2 separate regions of the Homo sapiens genome follow, and region 2 is linked to region 1. Evidence: fine-mapped expression QTL. Tissue or cell type: whole blood. Region 1 holds a variant in brackets; the other region holds the start of a gene. All regions are shown on one strand. Distances are between the middles of the regions.

Region 1 (5,146 bases):
ACCTTGGTGGCCACTTTTATAGACTAGGTGGTATTCATGCCTGCAGCTTCTGCTTGCTGTTACCGTAGGCTTGCTTTACAAATGAAGTATTCACTATATACTGATTTTCAGCAGCCTCAGGGTTAAATGGGGTGTAAAGCCAGAATGCTGTATAGAGTCTCTTATAAAACTGACTTAGGCTCTTGCCAGCTCCTTAAAGCATTCCTGAAATCTTTTTTATATTACTTGCTTTTTTCTACCAACTCTTAACCTCTGCAGAAGTGCTTCTCAGTACCTCTGCAAACACTGAAGCTGAGTTGCATTCTCTGGGCCTTTTTTCCCCTTTTTCCTGGAGTTTAACAGGCCCTTTTCTTTATATAATTTTTCATGCACTTGGAGGGTTAAACAGGCATACTGAGAGTCAGTGTAAATGTTTACAGTCTTACCTTCACTGAGTTCTAAGACCCGAATTAAAGCAATGAGCTCAGCTTAACAACAGTGTCCAGGGTTACCACTGCATATTCTGCATATCTCTCTCCTTGTGGGTTGATGAAGCTGTATAGCTCCCAGTCTACTGATGCCCAAGGCTGGTCCCGGAGGTCAGGTCTGCTAGAGTAAACTTGAGTCCAACACCTCTGCACTGTTATGCTCGACAGGGCTCTAGCTGCTGGGAGCAAGGTGGCAGGTTCAGGGTGTTTCCAGTTTAGTAGATCAATGGTTGAAAAGGGCTGATAGATGAAAGTCTGTTGCCCCCCAAGATGTGGGCCTGGTCATTATAATAGACAGGTCCTGGTGTCTTCCTGAGAGGCATTTGCATAGCTCCAGCAAGACCAGATCTGAGACGGCCCACTTGACTATCTTGACCTTCTTCCTTGGCCTCTCGAGGCTCCAATCCTCCCCTTCGAGGTGAGACCTGGGGCCTGTTAGCTCCTGAATCTCATTTCTGAGGGGGCTGTTGGCTTCAGTAAAGGTGGGTAGGCTGGGATATGTGGAGAAATAATTTCTATTATCTTTGGTGGCTCCTGCAAAACTGGCTTCTTTTGCTGTTTCTGGGACTCCCTTTTTAACTCTGACTGCTGGCGAAGCTGCTCTTACTTTTACTTTTGGCTTTTTTGCAATAAGCTGTTAAACAGGGCTAAATTTATGCTGGTTTTGTCTATATTATATTTAACCATGAGTCAATATAAAGGAATTTAATCTAGGTACACTGGCTGTCCTCTGACCCCTGTCACCACCTTAAATACATGGCCAATTGTTCCCTGTCTATAGTTCCTTCGGTGGGCCATCCAACACCAAAAGAGGGCAATTCTAATTCACACAGAGTTCCTAACCTCTAGGGGGTTAACTTAACTCTGTAATCTCCTGTGAAACCTTTCTTAAGGTTCTGTAACATACATTTTAATAGAGTAAGTTTTGATGATTTGATGACTATCCTTTTATTTTTCTTTTTGAAAATTTTTTACACAGTTCCTAGCGGAGTGGGCTTACTTTGTGTCTGACCTATTTTTCTCTTGAGACAAAACAACATTCACACTACAAGAAGGAAAGGGTAAAAGGTCACTCACTTGTCTAATTCACACTAAATCAAAATCGAAACGAAAACCAAAGTGTTGTTAAAGGCACACCTGTTCATCAAGCAATTTAAGCCAAGTCAAAATCAGAACCAAAACCAAAGTGCCAATAAAGGCATGCCTGTTTATCAAGCAATTCAAGTCAAATCAAAATCAAAACTAAAACCAAAGAGTCAAGCAATTCAAGTCAAGTCAAAAACAAAAACCAAAGTGCTGGTACAGGCACGCCATGGGTGATCAGGCCATGCTTCCACTCAAATGGAGTGGGCAAGATCCAAAGACCAGTCTTACCAAGTTTTAGATGTCTGGACTTAAAGTGCCAGTTCCTTCCCGGTGTTCAGCTACTGCATTGATCCTCTGCGGGGGCCTGCTGTGCACTGCTCTGACAAGGCATTCCACCAGGACAAATGCCTACCTGGGAGCGCTCTCAGGATCTGCATGGCTCAAGCTGGCCAGAGTCCCCCGCAGGGATGCTCTACAGGGCAGACCTAAGCTGCCTAAGGGGCTGCCTTGGCCTTCCATTAATCCCCTCACTTCCTGGTCAGGGAACCAAGAAATGCAGCAGGACGAGCCACAGACAAAACTCCTCAGACACCGGATTAAAGAAGGAAGTGGTTTATTCTGCCGGGAGCATCAGCCGACTTGCGCCTTAAGAGCTGAGCTCCCCGAAAAAGAAATTATTGGCCTTTTTAAAGGCTTACAACTTTAAGGGGTCCACATGAAAGGGTCGTGATAAATTGAGCAAGCGTGGGAAACGTGACTGGGGGCTACATGCATCAGCTAACAGAACAAAAAGTTTTACAGTGCTTTTTTCATACAGTGTCTGGAATTTATAGATAACACAAGTAGTTTAGGTCAGGGGTTGATGTTATTATTATAACTTTTTTTAACTCCTAGGGCCAGGTGGTGGTGTCAAGATTGTCTGGCTATTTATCTCACTTTTGTTTTTTTTCCAACTTTTGGCTTTCTCTCTTTCCTCCTGTCTTGTGAACTAGGCAAGGTGGGGGGAGGAGGGCAGCAGGAGTAGTAGTGGTCTCCTTCCTTAGCACGTTCTCAGCTCCTGGGTTCAAGGCACCTGGCACAAAATGCAGTTTCTTATGTCTACTTCTTTCTACATAGACACAGTAACAGTCTGATCTCTCTTTCTTTCCCCCACAAGCTCAAGTGATCCACCCACCCTCTCAAAGTGCTGGGATTGCAGCTGTGAGCTAATGAGCCTGGCCGCTATTATCTTTTT[T/G]TTGTCTGAATTTTTAAAATTATTTTTAAAAATGGAAAAACAGCTGGATGTGGTGGCGCACATCTGTAATCCAGCACTTTGGGAGGCCGAGCTGGGCGGATCACCTGAGGTCAGGAGTTCGAGACCAGCCTGGCCAACATGGTGAAACCCCATCTCTACTAAAAATACAAAAATTAGCGGGGTGTGGTGGTGGGCACCTGTAATCTCAGCTACTCAGGAGGCTGAAGCAGGAGAGTCCCTTGAACCTGGGAGGCAGAGGTTGCAGTGAGCCGAGATCATGCCACTGCACTCCAGCCTGGGCAACAAAGAGTGAAACTCCATCTCAAAAAAAAGAAAAAAAACAAAAGTGCAATTTTTCATTCAATAAATACTTCATTCTTATGCGGTTTTGTTGCAGAAAGTGAAGTCCATGACTTTAGAATGATAGTAATTTATCAACCAAATAATCCATTTCACATAGTTTCAATAACTGCAGCAATCTCCTTGAATTGTCTGCATAAATTCTGAAACTGTGGAATTGTCATTTCAAAGGACTTGTTCTTTACTTGGACTGAATGAGTGGCACTTTTAGCATCACTGCAACATAAGGATACTTAAGAGATCTGCAACTGTCACATCTCACAGCCAAACCCAGTTTCCATTGAAAATCTACAAGCTCAGCCAGGCGTGGTGGCTCATGTCTGTAATCCCAGCATTTTTGGAGGCCGAGGCGAGTGGATCACAAGGTCAGGAGATGGAGACCATCCTGGCTAACACGGCGAAACCCCCTCTCTACTAAAAACACAAAAAAATTAGCCAGGTATGGTGGCGGGTGCCTGTAGTCCCAGCTACTCAGGAGGCTGAAGCAGGAGAATGGCATGAACCTGGGAGGCAGAGCTTGCAGTGAGCCAAGATCACGCCACTGCACTCCAACCTGGGCGATAGAGCGAGACTGTCAAAAAAAAAAAAAGAAAAAAATCTACAAGCTCTGACCAGGCGCGGTGGCTCACGCCTGTAATCACAGCACTTTGGGAGGCTGAGGTGGGTGGATCACCTGAGATCAGGAGTTTACACCAACCTGACCAACATGGTGAAACCCCGTCTCTACTAAAAATACAAAATTAGCCAGGCATGGTGGCGCATATGTGTAGTCCCAGCTACTCGGGAAGCTGAGGCAGGAGAATCGCTTGAACCCAGGAGGCAGAGGTTGCAGTGAGCCGAGATTGCGCCGCTGCACTCCAGTCTGGGCGACAGAGTGAGACTCCGTCTCAAAAAAAACCAAAAAAACTGCATTTTGTTCTGTACTAAGAAAAACTCTTCTGCCTGCCTTGAGATGCTGTTAATCTGTAACCCTAGCCCCAACCCTGTGCCCCAGAGACATGTGCTGTGTTGACTCCAGGTTTTTTTTTTTTTTGAGACAGAGTCTCACTCTGTCTCCCAGGCTGGAGTGCAGTGGCGCCATCTCCGCTCACTGCAAGCTCCGCCTCTGGGGTTCACCACATTCTCCTGCCTCAGCCTCCCGAGTAGCTGGGACTACAGGCACCCGCCACAACACCCGGCTAATTTTTTGTATTTTTAGTAGAGACAGGGTTTCACCGTGTTAGCCAGGATGGTCTCCATCTCCTGACCTCGTGATCCGCCCACCTTGGCCTCCCAAAGTGCTGGGATTACAGGCGTGAGCCACAGCGCCTGGCCATTGACTCAAGGTTTAATGGATTTAGGGCTGTGCAGGATGTGCTTTGTTAAAAAAAGTGTTTGAACGCAGTATGCTTGGTAAAAGTCATTGCCATTCTCTACTCGCGAGTACCCAGGGACACATATACTGCGGAAGGCTGCAGGGACCTCTGCCCAGGAAAGCCAGATATTGTCCAAGGTTTCTCCCCATCTGATAGCCTGAGATATGGCCTCATGGGAAGGGAAAGACCTGACTGTCCCCCAGCCCCACACCCTTAAAGGGTCTGTGATGAGGAGGATTACTGAAAGAGGAAGGCCTCTTTGCAGTTGAGATAAGAGGAAGGCATCTGTCTCCTGCTCATCCTTGGGAATGGAATGTCTCGGTGTAAGACCCGACTGTACGTTCTATTTACTGAGATAGGAGAAAACCGCCTTGGGGCTGGAGGTGAGACATGCTGGTGGCAATACTGCTCTTTAATGCACCGAGATGTTTGTGTACATGCACATCAAGGCACAGCACCTTTCCTCAAACTTATTTATGACACAGAGACCTTTGCTCATATGTTTTCCTGCTGACCCTCTCCCCACTATTACCGTATTGTCCTGCCACATCCCCCTCTCCGAGATGGTAGAGATAGTGATCAATAAATACTGAGGGAACTCAGAGACCAGTGCCAGTGCGGGTCCTCTGTATGCTGAGCGCCAG
Region 2 (5,145 bases), 180 kb before region 1:
GAAGAGGGTGGTGGGGGTTTGGGGGACACTGAAGCCAAATGGGCTTCAGCTCCTCCCCAGGGATCTCCCTACCTGCTGCCCATTCCAACCTGGCTCTCTCCCTCTCCACAACTGAAGCCCAGGCCTCTTTGGATGCTGCTCACACATCTTGCCTCCTTATCTTACCTAGCCAGCGTCTCTGTCCTTGGTGTCTGTGCCTGCCCTGGCTGGAGAGGAAGGGGCTATATACCTGTCTGTTTACCCACCCCCTGTCAGGTGACAGGGACTATGGATGGGCCCAGTGGGGCAGGGATTATGTGAGGATAAACAAGTTGGAGAAATGGGGGAGGAGAGGACAAGCACATGGAAGACTCATGGTGATGGGGTGAGAGGCAGGGGGTACAGCTCTTAGTGGAGGCTAAGGGGGTACACTTCAGGTATATTTGAGGTTCATTCTTTTGAGATCTGAGGTCCTTGGACTTGAGTGCAACAGGAAGCAGGATTCCAAGTTATTTCTCTGGAAAGCTCTGACATATCAACCCATGGAATACCATCAACCCATCATACCATGGAAAGCTCATGGTGTCTTTATTCCATTATGGGTAGATCTCATCTCTCAACCTTATCCCACTTTACTGCAACTTGGCAGAGAGATATTGGGGAGCAGAAGAAAGGAGAAAGGAATTGAAATCAGGGACAGGGTTGAGGGCTATGGGGGTTAGGGGAATGAGGGTCGGGTAAGAGGGCAAGTGTAAATGATCTTGTCCGTTTTTGAGTTAATGTGTAATGAGACGGGGAGAAAACAGGAGAGCCCAGAATGACCTGGATGCTGATCACTGAACATACCCTACCCCCAGTAAAACAAATTCAGAAAACAGCTTCCGCCCGTCCCCTCCCAATGGAGGGCTCTGGCAGGAAAAGAGGTGAATAAGAGGCTTCTACCAGGGTAAAGGTTGAAGGCACCTGGTCATTTGATCACCTTATCAGTTCTAGGCAGTGATTAGCCAATATTGAGTCAGCAGGGGCAATAGCCCTGGCCCTTGTCTCACTCCTGTTGGGGGTGGGGGAGGGGGAGAGGTACATTCCCAGGTTCAAAGCATTTGGGTGAAATCAGTTAAATAGATATCAGAAGCTTTTGTATCTTTCACCCTTTTGCCCCCCAAGCATACTCGCTGAGTATGTGGAACATTCCTGAGGGTGACAGTGGAGGCGCAAAGCTGATGAGGGAGGTAGTGACCAGAGACCAAGAAATCTTTGTTTTTTAACTTTTGTTTTAAATTCAGAAGTATATGTGCAGGTTTTTTTGTTTGTTTTCCTGAGACGGAGTTTTGCTCTTGTTGCTCAGGCTGGAGCGTAATGGCATGATCTCGGCTCACTGCAACCTCCACCTCCCGGGTTCAAGGATTCTCCTGCCTCAGCATCCCAAGTAGCTGGGATTACAGACATGCGCCACCACGCCCGGGTAATTTTGTACTTTTAGTAGAGACGGGGTTTCCCCATGTTGGTCAGGCTGGTCTTGAACTCCCGACCTCAGGTGATCTGCCCGCCTCGGCCTCCCAAAGTGCTAGGATTACAGGCATCAGCCACCGCCCCTGGCCTATATATGCAAGTTTGTTACACACGTAAACTTGTGTCATGGGGATTTGTTGTACAGATTATTTCATCACCCAGGTATTAAGCCTAATATCCATTAGTTATTTTTCCTGATCTTCTCCCTCCTCCCACCCTTCACCCTCCAAGACCAAGAACTCTTACTCCATTTTCAATTATTCCCCTGTGGAGCGCTTAGTGCTTGAGGTCAGCCCTTTGGCTTGTCCCTGGTCCTGGGATGGAGTGCCTTTGGGGGCCAGGCTCCATATTCCTAGATTTTATTTGCCAACTCTGCCTTGGGACTCAGGGAAGGAAGGGTTAAATACAGAAAGCAGCTGTTTCAGCGAATAGTTCTGCTAGAACTTACTCCTCTGCGCCAAACTCTCACACCCGTTTCCATTCCACCAAGTGGTCAAGAGCGGGGACTTCGAGAGATGTAGACCTCCAGAAGAGAAGGGTGGGTCCCTGTTCTAGGGAGTGCTGCGCTTAATGAGTAGTACTCATTTGGAGGTGTGCTGTGGAGGGCTGTGAGGAGGATTTCCCATGGGTTCTTTGGAGAGAAGGGAGCGATAGAAATGAACCAGGGTTCCAAAGAAGTCTTCATAATCGTTCTTTCTGCCACCCTTCACACTATGCCAGTCTACAAGCTGTAGTTCCACTTTTCTCATGGATGAAACTACATGGGTGGAAGGAGCTTCAGTGGCCCAAGCTACAAGATGCTCCCTCTAGTGTCTTGTACGCTCACAAGTTTTTTTCCGACCTTGGAGAGGCCTAGTGATCTAAAGCCTTCCACTTAAGTCTAAGGGGCCACCAATCAAGTCCTGCCCGCCTCTGCAGCTCCAGGGTTGAAGCTCTTGGGCCGTCAGACCTGCCACTCATTTTCTTCCTCCCTTCCCATTGGCCCATGGTAAATAGCGAGGCTTTTTTTTTTTTTTTTTTTTTTCATTGATTGGGCGGGGCCCAATCAGGGTTGGGTTGGGTCTTTGACAGCTTTCTTTGCCAGATTCAAAGATGGCGCTTACGGCCACGCTAAGAATGCAGCGTGAAGCTGCAGTTCTGCCATCACTCAAGATGGCTGCCCCCATCAAGATGACCGGGGTGTGCCGGGGGGAAAGGGGCAGCATGATGGTCTGAGATGGTAAGGGATACTGCACCATTGCGGGCCTGGTCTTGGGGCCTGGGAATGAAGAATAGAGAGGCTAGGGAGCTAGGTGAAGTCTGTGGTGGGGGCTAGGATCAGAGAAAGGGAGAGAGGACAAGGGTGACAAGTGGGGGTGAGAGATCAAAGATGGGGCGGGAGTGTGCCTAGGGTTGTCTCTCCATGAGTGCTCTCCTTCCCTACTCTTCCTGTTCCAGGTGTAGCGTCGGACCATGTGGAAGTTTCTGAGGCTGGGGAGCCGGATAATGGGGGGTGGGGCCCGTTGGGGGGTAAAGGGGCAATAGCGTCCTTTCACAGGCTAACCTCGGCTCTTCCCAGTCCTCTGGACTAAAATGGGGAACACATTGGGCCTGGCACCAATGGGGACTTTGCCCCGCCGGAGCCCCCGCCGAGAGGAACCCCTGCCCAACCCTGGGAGCTTCGATGAGCTGCACCGTCTATGCAAAGGTGAGAACTTGGCACTTGGGTGTCTCAGGATGAAGGGGCAGAGGAGTGGAGGGTCTTGAATGCCGGATGTCCGGCGATGGGAGCAGGAAAGGGGAGATCATAGCTGGGTCATGCAGCCTCAGGGAGGATCAGGTGCCCAAATGAAGTGGAGCATTTCATTGCAGGACTTGAAAGGAGGTTAATTCCTCCAAAGTGTTCCCTATGGGATTGAAAGGGGAGACTATCTTTTGGGGTAGGGGTTCTTTGTCTGTGCTTATTCCTTCCCTTCCCCTACCCCCTTCAGATGTATTCCCAGCACAGATGGAGGGAGTGAAGCTCGTTGTCAACAAGGTTCTGAGCAGCCATTTCCAGGTGCTCCCACTTCTCTGGCCCCTCCTTACTATTCCCCCTTTCCTGTCCCTGGATCATCTTCTCCTTTCCTTTGTACTCCAGCCCTAGCCAGTCTATGTGGGACAAATGAGGGAGGATGTGGGGTTCTCTTTACCTCCGTGCCTGTGGGACTTGTTGCTTTTAATCCGATGACCTTCTCTGTATATGTTGGAATATTTAGGATTCTTGAGAGGCCCTCTGGATGGGGAAAAGACTAAGGGTGGGATGAGGGATTGAAGTGGAGCAGGAATGCGCTTTTCTCCACTGAATCCTCTTTTCCTCAGGTGGCGCACACTATACACATGAGTGCCCTGGGCTTGCCGGGATATCACCTCCATGCGGCCTATGCAGGGGATTGGCAGCTCAGTCCCACTGAGGTGAGGGCTCCACACACCTGGGTCATCTCCCTAAAAACCAATCTGGGACCCAGGTCTGGAGGAAGAGGAATTGTGTGTGTTATGGGGAGGAATGGGCCGTAACCTGATTCTCTGTGTCTTTTCTGAATGAGAGAGGGTAGAGAAACATTTTCTGTGAAGAGCCCAGAGTGTGTCTTTGTGACTCCACCAGGGGGCGCTGTGCACTCTTAATGAAGTTCTATATTTGGGTTTAGGCTGAGTGGTGCCATCCGGCTCAGCCTTACTACTGTGTACACCCTTCCACAGGTGTTCCCCACTGTGGTAGGGGATATGGACAGCAGTGGCAGCCTGAACGCCCAGGTCTTGCTCCTCTTGGCAGAGCGGCTCCGAGCTAAGGCTGTCTTCCAGGTGACCACAGTTCCTGCCTCCATCCCCTGAGGCACTTCCTCTTTCTCCTCCACGGGTTTCCTGCTCTGAGGGCTTGGAAGGAGGAGCAGAGTCTATAATGATCATAAAGAGGGAGGGAGATTTTACTTCTTGCTCTTGCCACCCAGACGCAGCAGGCCAAGTTCCTGACATGGCAGTTTGATGGCGAGTATCGGGGAGATGACTACACAGCCACTCTGACCCTAGGAAATCCTGACCTGATTGGGGAGTCGGGTGAGGAACTGGGACAGGGTTCTTTTTATCTTGGCGGCCCATTTGCTAATGTTACTATGCCTCTTCATCTTCTGTACAGTTTGGAGTTTAGAAAAGGAACTTCTTGGGCAGGCTGGGGTGGCGGTTATTGGGAGTGAGGGAGCAGGTCTGGATATTGTCTCTATGACTGACTCCATGTCTCCCCATTCCCCCACAGTGATCATGGTTGCTCACTTCCTGCAGAGCCTCACTCATCGGCTGGTGCTGGGAGGAGAGCTAGTTTATCACCGGCGGCCAGGCGAAGAGGGGGCCATCTTGACACTGGCTGGGAAGTACTCGGGTATGGGGCGAAGTGAAGTAGTGGTGGTGGTGGGGGGCAATTCTGGACTTTTCTGGGGTTCCTGGCCTGTGTCATACTACAGTTAACACTCCTTCCCCTCTGTACTTTGGATTTTACAGCTGTACACTGGGTAGCTACATTGAATGTGGGATCAGGCGGGGCCCATGCAAGTTACTACCACAGGGCAAATGAACAGGTGAGACCTCTGATCTCATTCCCTCCTTGTCAGCAAGTCAGTCATGAACTTCTGTTCATCTGGACCTCTA

Evidence for each region. PIP is the estimated chance that this variant, and not a neighbour inherited with it, causes the effect.
Region 2: TOMM40L starts here. The variant in region 1 is fine-mapped to the expression of TOMM40L in whole blood (INTERVAL, PIP 0.90).

Annotation. Positions count from the first base shown.
Region 1 is chr1:161,408,358-161,413,503 of GRCh38, forward strand. It overlaps the pseudogene COMMD6P1. Among named protein-coding and RNA genes, the nearest start is that of TRV-CAC1-1, 11 kb to the left of the region's middle. The variant T/G (reference allele first, on the strand shown) is at 2,788.
Region 2 is chr1:161,223,430-161,228,574 of GRCh38, forward strand. It overlaps TOMM40L (translocase of outer mitochondrial membrane 40 like), which reads left to right and starts at 2,631. Exons shown (of 10, transcript NM_032174.6): 1 at 2,631-2,707; 2 at 2,926-3,175; 3 at 3,459-3,526; 4 at 3,829-3,921; 5 at 4,207-4,308; 6 at 4,455-4,560; 7 at 4,757-4,879; 8 at 4,999-5,075. The coding sequence starts at 3,061. It overlaps APOA2 (apolipoprotein A2), which reads right to left and starts at 199. Exons shown (of 4, transcript NM_001643.2): 1 at 166-199. MIR5187 (microRNA 5187) reads left to right here and starts at 3,757; the gene lies at 3,757-3,832. RefSeq lists enhancers at 2,037-2,146, 2,607-2,676, 4,191-4,370.